Regions from separate parts of the Homo sapiens genome. Here region 1 is linked to region 2. Evidence: fine-mapped expression QTL. A gene starts in region 2. The other region holds a variant in brackets. All regions are shown on one strand. Distances are between the middles of the regions. Region 1 overlaps BRAF (B-Raf proto-oncogene, serine/threonine kinase). Region 2 holds the start of BRAF (B-Raf proto-oncogene, serine/threonine kinase).

The links.
Region 1: its variant is fine-mapped to the expression of BRAF in whole blood (TOPMed, PIP above 0.99).

Annotation. Positions count from the first base shown.
Region 1 is chr7:140,836,039-140,841,416 of GRCh38, forward strand. The region is part of intron 2 of BRAF (B-Raf proto-oncogene, serine/threonine kinase); the gene reads right to left. Among named protein-coding and RNA genes, the nearest start is that of BRAF, 86 kb to the right of the region's middle. The variant T/C (reference allele first, on the strand shown) is at 3,153.
Region 2 is chr7:140,921,742-140,927,119 of GRCh38, forward strand. BRAF (B-Raf proto-oncogene, serine/threonine kinase) reads right to left here and starts at 3,188. Exons shown (of 18, transcript NM_004333.6): 1 at 2,825-3,188. The coding sequence starts at 2,962. LOC105375536 (a long non-coding RNA gene) reads left to right here and starts at 3,351. Exons shown (of 5, transcript XR_002956518.2): 1 at 3,351-4,761; 2 at 5,330-5,378. RefSeq lists a silencer at 3,011-3,080.

The sequences.
Region 1 (5,378 bases), 86 kb before region 2:
TTTAGATGGATGAAGAAAGTAGGGAGGAAGGAATCCTCTATATGGGAAAAATTCTGTAACAAAGAGTTTGTTTTTTCTGTAACAAAGGCGAGAAAGTTTAAGACACATGAAAAACTATAGATAGGTATAGCTCAATGTCATACAATACCTGGGACATAGCAAAAGATCAATATATGTTTGTGAAATTTAAATGAAGCTTTAGCAGCATCCCTGTTTTCTTAAAAAGGAAAGAAAGAAATTTAAATGAAAAATAGGTAAAGAAACAATAAGGCTGAAAAGGTGAAAGGGAATAGATTGTAGAGAGTATATACGCCATGCTATCAAGTCTGAATGTAAGGGAGGAAGGGAGAATTATAAAATGTAGAGGAGAATGAAAGAGAAATTTCATTTCAATAAGGGCCACAGGACCCTGCTATGCTGCATCTTACCACATACTTTCGAACAAATAAGGGGGGCGGGGAATAGTAACAAGAGCTACTGAGGAAGAGATTTAAACTTCATCAAAAGGTCTTCTTTGTTTACAGCCTGCTAGTTGCCCTACCCAGACCCTGTTTCATAGTAGATGAGGGCATTATAAACAGATAGATTCCAAATTTTCTGAGCTACAATTTGGTTTAGCTTTCAGTACCAAGGCCTAATTACTTAAGCATACTTCTCTCAATAAAATTTATTTATTGAGCCTTCAATCACTCAGTAAATATATACTGATACATGTGCTTGGCACTGTTAGGGCTCAGACTACAACCACACATAAGACAAACACAATTCCTACTCTTTGAAGATCACATAAATGCAGTCTGGAACACAAAGGTTCCTCCTGCATGGATAAAATATTCTTATTTACTGTCACCTGAGCAAGTACAGTTACTAGACAAAATAAACCTTAGGAAAAGTAATGAAAAGAACAATTTTCCAAACATATTTCCTTACCAAAATGTTAGCTTTAATTTTTGAAAGTATACTGATCCCTCCATGACAGATTATAAACTATCACTTCACCACATCTATCAATAGCTTTTCCTTTTGTTAAGTACAAAACATCTACTTATTCCATCTGTCCCTATCCTCAAAGCTGCAATCTACCAAGGCCCCTGGCTCATTTTACCTACTGCCCTTGCTGCATTCAATATGAACTTCAATTACTCTTTTAACACTGCCATAGATTTCTCTAAACCTCTCACCTCTAAAAGCATTTATTTCCATTCTACCTTTAAGACCCGGAGAAGCATCACAGTCTTTACAAAAGCAATAAAAATGATGAAATGATCTCGATTTAGAACCTCACGCACCCCTGGGGCACACATACTTATCCCAACTTCTTAAATGTCTATCTCATTACATTAATCTGTTCAAGGTCAACATTAATCTCTCAAACAGTTGCTAAGATTTGGCCATTGTTGTCTTCCTTCACATACTTTGCGGCTCACAACTACAACAATGCCATTGGTGATATCTTAAGATTTTCAGGCTAATTCTTGTTATTTTATCAACTAGCTTGCCAGATACAAATTTTGGGTAAGTCTGACCATTCAATTGTTCTATTTTTTCCTGTCAGGTTACCACACACTGTTGGAGAAAATAATAAAACTGGTCTAATTAGTTCTATGATCAATTTATGGAACTTAGATTTGCCTGGTCCTTCACACTACTGCCTGAAAATCATGCTTGTTTTTAACATCATATTACAGTCAAAACAGTTATTCCAATCTTCCTAATTCTTCTCTGGATCTTAACTTCATCCTTCAACTTTTAATTCACTCTGAAAATAACATTACCTTCAAATCCACTCTGAAGATCAAAGTCATCAAATGAAAAGTTTACTCTACTTCTTTATCTACAAAATTCTCCACATCTTTCCCCATTCTTCTTCTACTCTCACTTCAGTGCTAATATTGGGTGTTTAGGGCCTTAGTCTACCATTCCCTCAGTTTTCTCTCATATCATCTACTTTTCCCTTTTCCTCTGTTTTCTCACTCTACTAATATGAGCAAGCCACTCCAACATATGTGCAAACCTCAACCACAACCACCACCACCATTTCTTTTGGTTATTCAAGATGCTGCAGATACCAGATACCACTTCTTCAGGAGACAGTTGTTCAAAAACCCTATTCCTTCTCATCAAAACTCTAAATATTTTTCAAAAAGTCTAATTCTAAGCTCTCTTTGTCAAAATCCAGAAGAGGTATCCTTTCTCTTTATCTCCTTTAGAATATTTTATCATACTCTTCTTTATATGGCAAATTTTTCTCAACTTCAAAATAATTTTGTGAGGATTAAATGAGATAACACAAGTAAAACAAATTATTGTAGAGACTACCACATAGCAAAAATCCAATAAATATTTGTATTAGTAATAATTGATAACCTGGGAGGCGGAGGTTGCAGTGAGTTGAGATCACGCCACTGCACTCCAGCCTGGCAACGAGAGCAAGACTCCATCTCAAAAAAGAAAAAAGAATCTAAGAAGACTTAATATCATTAAAATGACAACGCTTCCCAAGTTGATCTACAGATTCAATGCAATCCTTCTCAAAATCTCAATTTTTTTTTGTAGAAACTGACAAGCTGATCTTAAAATTCATATGGAAATACAACGGACTTGAAATTATCAAAACAATCTTATAAAAGAAAAAAGAAGTTGGAGGACTTATACTTCCTGATTCCAAAACTTAACTATAAAACTATAGTAATCAAGACAGCGCAATAATTTTGGAATAAGAACACACATATAGAACAGAATAGAACAAGGTACAACTAGTAAATCCATAAAGGCAAAAAGTAGATCAGTGGTTGTCAGGGGCTGGAGGGAATGACTTCCAATGCATGAAGGGTTTCTTTGTGGGAATGATAAAAATATTTTAGAATCAGATAGTGGTGACAGTTGTCCATTGTGTAAATACACTAAGAACCACTGAATTACACACTTTAAAAAAGTGAATAATATAGTATGTGAATTATTTCTCAATAGAACAAGAAATAAAACCTTACATTTACAGTCAATTGATTTTTTTTTTTTACAAAGCCAGCAAGACAATTCAATGCAGAAAGAATGGTCTCTTCAACAACTGGCGCTGGTACAACTGAATATCCACACACAGAAGAATGAAGTTGGGCTACTACCTCACAACATATCCAAAAACTAACTCGAAA[T/C]AGGCCAGGCATGTTGGCTCACGCCTGCAATCCCAGCTCTTTGGGAGGTCAACGCTGGAGGATCACTCGAGGCCAGGAGTTCAAGACCTGACTGGGCAACATAGACTCCATCTTTACAAAAATTAAAAACAAAACAAAATGGGTCACATATCTATTATATAATTGAGCACCCTCATTTTTCTAAGAAAAAGTTTAATTATTTTTTTCTTTCCTCCTCCTCCCCACTTCCTACTTAGCTCTTTAGAAATGCAATTATATGCCAGGGGTGGTGGCTCACACCAGTAATCCCAGTACTTTGGGAGGCCAAGGCAGGCAGATCACTTGAGCCCAGGAGTTTGAGGCTAGCCTGGGAAACATGGTGAAACCCCATCTCTAAAAAAAATATGAAACTTGGCTGGGCATGGTGGCATGCACATATAGTCCCAGCAACCCAGGAGGCTGAAGCGGGAGGATCGCCTGAGCCCAGGAGGTAGAGGCTGCAATGAGCCGAGATCATGCCACTACACTCCAACCTGAGTGACAGAATGAGATTCTGTTTCAAAAAGAAAAAGATAAAAGAATAAAAGAAATGCAATTATGGCCTTTTATCTCCTTTTCACCAGACATTCCCTACAAGGCAAGTTGATCTAATTATGTGCTTAGACAATCCTGAGTGGAACTCTCACCCGTCAGGAAGTTGCCTCAAGAGGTAATAGTTGATCTACAACCAAAAGTAAGACTGCTAGAGTTTTCAGCCACCTCTGAGGTATTTTTGCCCATGAAGCCACCAACTTGACTGCCTGAGAAAGAAGGCACCGAAGGGAATATGCAGATCTTCCACCCGCTCATTTCTGCCCCCGTGTAGGCACCTTCTTTAAAAGCACCCACTTTCTGCTCCAACAGGGAAGCAGTACCCTTAAGGCAGGAAGCCTGTACGTCTTCTTCCTTTAAGCTAACTTTGGAATAAAAAAGTCACTTTATACTAGACTTTGCTCTTACTAATTGGACTCTGCAGGCAGCAAGCAACTAAACCTGTTTTGGCTATATAACTAATACTATAAAACTCTTAGGAAAAAAACACAGGAGTAAATCATCCTGACCTTTGATTAGGCAATGGTCTCTCATGTATGATACACCAAAAGCACAGCAACCACAGAAAATAGATAAATTGGAATTCCATCCACATTTAAACTTTAAAATAGATAAATTGGAATTCCATCCACATTTAAACTTTTGTACTTCAAAAGACAAAATTGAAAGAGTGGGAAAAAATACCACAGAATGGGAGAAAATATTTGCAAGTCATGGATCTACTATCTAGAATATATAAAGAACTCCTGGCCAGGTGCGGTGGCTCATACCTGTAATCCCAGCACTTTGGGAGGCCAAGGCGGGAGGATTGCTTGAGTCCAGGTGTTCGAGACCAGCCTGGGCAACATGGCAAATCCCCATCTCTACAAAAAATACAAAAATTATCCAGGCACAGTGACGCATGCCTGTAGTCCCAGCTGCCCGGGAGGCTGAGGTGGGAGGATGGCTTGAGCCTAGGAGGTAGAGGTTGCAGTCAGTCGAGATGGTGCCCCTGCATTCCAGCCTGGGTGACTCTGCCATCTTGGCTCACTGCAACTTCCGCCTCCCAGGCTCAAGCGATCCTCCCATCTCAGCCTCCCGGGCAGGTGGGACTACAGGCATGCACCACCACGCCTGGATAATTTTTGTATTTTTTGTAGAGACGGGGTTTCGCCATGTTGCCTAGGCTGATCTCGAACTCCTGGACTCAAGTGATCCATCCACCTCAGCCTCCCAAAGTGCTGGGATTACAGGTGTGAGCCACCATGCCTGGCCTAAAGAACTCTTACAACTCAGTAATAAAAGGACAAACCCAGTTTTTTTAAGTGGGCAAAGGATTTGAATAGACATTTCTCCAAAGAAGATATACAAATGGCTAACAAGAACATGAAAAGATGTTCTATATTATTAGTCATTAGGAAACTGCAAATCAAAACCAAATGAAATACCAATTCACACCTACTAAGATGGCTTTAATTAAAAAAACAAATAGATAATAACAAGGGTTGATGAGGATGGAGAGAAACTGTAACCCTCATACATTGCTGTTAGGAATACAAAATAGTGCAGCAACTTTGAAAAACTGTCTGGCAGTTAGTTCCTCAAAGTGTAAAACAGAGTTACCACAAGACCCAGCAATTCTATTCCTAGGCATACAGCCAGGAAAAATGAAAATAT
Region 2 (5,378 bases):
TTTCCCTTTGAAATCAGACTTTTTTTTTAGATGAAATTTCCCTCTGGGAAACTTTTATTTAAAAAAAAAAAACCTACATTTTACTGTTAGGTAAAATAAATCTTCAGAATAAAATGTGTCATTACACACAAGCAAACCTTTTCATTCTTTCCATGTAATTTGCAGTAAAAGATCCCTTTAAGTGAATGTAAGGAAGACTTCAAATAAAAGACCACAGCACATTTCAGTTTCCACTGAATATCAACTTCAAATTTAAAATTATTTCTTGGAGGAATTTATTTTATCATCTGTAATACTGATATTTACATTCAAGAGATACATTTTTTAATCAATGTCACCCTCCCAGCCAAATACATTTATTATCAGTTCAGAAAAAAATGTAGAGGGAAAACTACTGTTCACCACTAAACATTAAAACCTGGGTAAAGAGGACAGTAGGAAACACTTGTTTTTTAACCAAGTAAAATGAGAGTATCCTTATAGTTTCAGAAGATATGAATATGCTTTCCAATTACTGGCAATTTATACTTAAATTCAGCTAGCCTAGAGGTTCTCAAGGATTGGTACATGGGAACTGCTCAAGACATGTGCCAAATACAGAAATCCATGGCCCTCGCTCTCACTTACTAAATCAGACTCTTCAGGGGGTACAGTTCCAAACAATCTGGCCCTTTCAAATAAAATAGAAGGGTAGAGATTTTACTTCACAAAAGCCTTCTTTACAGAATTGCAAACGGTTCTAATAACTCTGCAGCAAAGTTCCCAAGATAAACAATTTTATAATCAGAGAATTACAATTTCATAACCCCTACTTATTACTTCACTCATTGTTCCACTCTGTAGTAGTCTTCAAACAAGATACAATTCAACAAAACTACACATCTATTACAGAGTAAAATAAAATCCAGAGGCACCTGTGCCTGGTTAAGACAAAGGCATATCCGATTCCTGGAGAAAACAGACAGCAGATGTGACCCCTAGTATTTATCCATTAAAAACAATGTATCCTAAAAATAAATTTCCATGTCAAAGGAAACAAAGATGTTTATAAATAAGAAGGAACGTGGAGGTGTGGAGAAGAAAAGAGGAAGCTTCAGAAAGTTAAGTACCAAAAGCCAGGAAACAAGGCAAAATGAATGGTAACTGGAAACAAGGGAAACAGAATAAACTAGGAAATTGAAGTAGAGAAGAGCTTTCTCCTTAGAAATCAAGAAGCTGGGGGAAAGGAACAGATATGAGAGGAAACTGATCTAAGCAAAAATGCATACTGAAAAGTGGAATGATTTTAAGAAACTTAAAAATGAGAAATTTTAGAACAGATCAAATGATGGTACAGAACACATTTTGGGCATGTAACAAAGATGATATAAAGAGTAGAAAACAAACATTATCATAAACAAGCTGATGCTGAATAAAGCAAGCATATTGGATGAATTTCCAAAGATGATGATGCAAAAAAAAAATTGCAGAGAGAATGAGATGTTATGAGAATTGAGAAATTAGATGTTAATAGTAAGTAGCAAAGAGAACTTCGAGCAAAGTCAACAGAGTAAGTCACATTACCTAATCAATAACTGTAAACCACAATTATTATACCATATCTTATTTGTAAAGCATAATAAAGTATTATTTTCTGTAATAAAATACCAAATATTTGTAATAAATTTTATGTAATAAAAAAACGTAAATAATTTGACACAGTGCTAAGAGGCTGACTAATGCAAAAACAGGCTGAGAGAAGCAAGGACTGGAGAGGAAAAAGGAAAAGGAAAAAAATAGGACAAAAAGGAGGACAACACTAAGAAATCAATCAGACCTATAAAAATGGGTAGGAATAAAGAGGTGTGAATGCACAATGGACGACTAGCCAAAAAGTGCCAGTAGTGCAAGCGCGAAAAGAGCCAAGTGAAACCTGATGGAATCTTGACAGCTTCTGGGCTCAGAAAACAAGTAGCTCCAAAGTGTCCAGGAGGATTTGTGAAGATAACAACAGACAACAATGTTAGGGAGTGGTGAGATCAAGTACAGAGCCTCAAGAGGACCAGGGTAAGAGAAGTGCAAAAATGCTCTTAAGTGGGAGCTGGGGTTAGAAGGCAGGCAGGTCCGACAACTGGAAAATGAGCGGGCGGTAGATGGGAATAGAATGGGGGTTACCAATCAGCGACAGAGCGCTGACAAACATTAGGAACAGAGGACCAGAGACCAGAAAAGGCATCGGAAACTGCGATTTAGGATTGAAAAAGTAAAGACTAAATCAAAATAATTTGCTGGGTAAAACAGGTGAAGAGAAATCCCCAAATAGAAAAGTGAAAAAGGGCAGCGGACTGAGAAGGGGGGCAGTCCGGGAGAGGAGAGAGGAAATGATGAGCCCCATCATCCCCACGACCATGTAAGAATTACACGCGACAGTAACTCGGGCTGTTGTCTCAGCCCCAGCAACTAACCTATATCCTCCACGTCGAGGCCGCCGCCGCCCCCACCCCACAGAGATGCAGAGCTGGATACTTCAGCCAATCGTGACCTTCTCGGACCAACCCTGAGTTTCGCCCCCTATTGATAGCCTCCCGCTCAACCACCGCTGCCCCAATCCCCACATCTGGGGTGGGGGCCAGGGAAACCCCCCGGGCCATTGTGTGTGTTTACGTAGGAAGGCGCTGCATGACGGAGAGGGACACGGGGGCGATGCCCACCTCCCAGCCCGCGGAGCTGGCCCGAGAAGGTGGCTGAGGGCATCAAGCCCCCACCGCCGCCTCTTTCCAAAATAAACACCAGCCAGCCGCCGAGCCCGGAGTCGGGAGGGCGGCAGGGTGGCGCCAGCACTCACCTCCTCCGGAATGGCAGGGTCCGCAGCCGAAGAGGCCGCGGCGCCGGCGCCGGCGCCGGCCTCGGGCTCCATGTCCCCGTTGAACAGAGCCTGGCCCGGCTCCGCGCCGCCACCACCGCCACCGCTCAGCGCCGCCATCTTATAACCGAGAGCCGGGGCCCGAGCGGCCGCTGTCGGGCGGGGAGGGGGAAGGGAGGCGGAGAGCTGGGGGAGGCGGAGGCGGAGGCGGAGGCGGAGGAGCGGGGGGCGCGGGGGGCGCGGGGAGGAGCGGCCCGGGCGGCGCCGCGGGCGGAGGGCGCCTGGGCCACCTCAGGTACCGGCCCGCGGCCCCGGGCGCAGCCGAGCCTGAGGGGATTGGGGGAAGGACGCTAGGCGGGGGTGCGGGGGGGAGCGGGGGAAGGGGGCGGAGACGACGAGAAGTCGCCGCGGCAACGGCGTCACCCGCGTGTCACGGTCGTGACGTCACCCCGGTGCGTGACGTAATCTGAGGCGCGCCTTCGCGCCGTCGTCCGGGGAGGGTTTTTTCCCTTCTAACCACCCGCGCTCTCACACTTTGCCTCCGCTCCGCCGTTTCCATGGCTCCGGTTTCCTACTTTCCTCTTGTCTCCTCCGTCCTCAGCCTGTTCTGTAATGTGGGATTTACTAGAAGAGCAGGGCTGGTGTTCGAGGAGGAGAAGTTGAAATCCTAGAGGGAGGAAGGCGGGGAAGCCAATACTACTTGCTATTTCCACTGCAATGAACGTCTCTGTGTCATCAAAATAAGAACTTCAACCCCAAGGTTGAAACAGCCAAGCAGAATTTGATGGAAATATATTTAGGAACAGCTAAATTAGCAGTGCGACGCGTGTTTTCTTTTCATTGAAGAATTCAGCCAGTTAAAACGAGTCTAAATGGAAGTCTGAAAGCTTTTTCTTCATTGTTGAGGAATAAAATATTTCGTGTATTTTTCGTTTTCCAGATTCATTCATTTAACAAATATCAGTTGAGCACTTTCCATGCCGTAGGGCCTGTACAAGGCACATAGCATTCTAGACATCTGAAGCATCAAAACTAATCATTTTTATTTTGAAGAAAATCACTCAAAATATTTTATGTACTTTGTGCCTTTCATGAACAGAATATTCCAAGCATTCTCTGCAAAATACGCATGAAAACAATTGGGAGAGAAGAGGTCAATTATCTTTGAGAAGCCCAATTACAGAATGAAATTCAATTCATTATTAAAAATACATGGATCTAATAAAGAATAAATAATTGGAAAAGAAAAGTTTAAGGAAGAGAGAAACGGGAATGAGAAACAATTACTGTGGGCTCCCAATGGCCTGGAGTGAATCACCAAAGTAACCTAAACATGAAGTCATGAAAAACTAAGTGGATTCTGCCTTTTAGTACTTCCCATCATGGGGGAAGTCACCAGCGACCTCCTTACTGTATTTTGGATGATTCAAGAAATAGAAAGGTGTCCTACTGACTTCTGAAACAGGGTGTCTTCATATTGATTAGGGTCACCGTAAGCCTGGGAGCTGATGCTTACTCTCAGGTAAAGGATGCTGTGTGAGGCTGCTTGATGAATGAGAATACTAACATTCTTCTGCATTGAAAAAATATAACCTATAAGATGAACATTGTAGGCCGGGCGCAGTGGCTCACGCCTGTAATCCCAACACTTTGGGAGTCTGAGGCGGATGGATCACCTGAGGCCAGGAGTTTGAGACCAGCCTGGCCAACGTAGTGAAACCTCATCTCTATTAAAAGTACAAAAAATTAGCCTGGTGTGGTGGTGCACACTTGTAATCCCAGCTACTCAGGAGCCTGAGGCAGGAGAATCATTTGAACCTGGGAGGCAGAGGTTGCAGTGAGCCGAGATTGCACCACTGAACTCCAGCCTGGGCAACAGAGCCAGACTCTGTCTCCAAAAAAAAAAAAACATGAACATGGTATGCTTTGTTAACTTCATTGTACATTCTCCTCCAAGTAGGAAAGTTTCTATGAGGAAATAAATTTAAATCAAAAAGTGGCTTGGCAAATGTAGAGTAAATGATCACAAGGGATGATGTCATCAAGCTAAACTAATCTGAAGCACCCTTTACTATAAGGACATACTTAGAAGCAGACTGAAATAGCACCATTAGCCAGTCATGGCACCTTTTCCCCTTTCATCACCCTTTCATCACCCTTTCATCAGAAACACAACTGGCAAGATTTTTGTTAATTCTCTAACTGTCCTATTTCATTTTTAAAAAATTAGCTGCTAAAAATGTTATATCATTATAACACTTCCTTATAACATTAAAAGTTTTAAAGGCTTTTATCCTCACATTGGTTCCATTTTGAATTCTAGCCTTATTTGTCAGTATCAGTCTGTAGTTCAGATCTTCCATGATTATTTCTCCACAGGATGACTGGTCTCATCCATTTAATATTGATTCTTCTTAGCGTTCTACTCATTTGACATTTTCTGACCTTGCCTTAAAATTCTGGATATATCCTGTTTTACTTCCTTAGGCCATTCTAAAGTCCTACAGTATCCAGATGAGAAACGAGAGAAAGCATA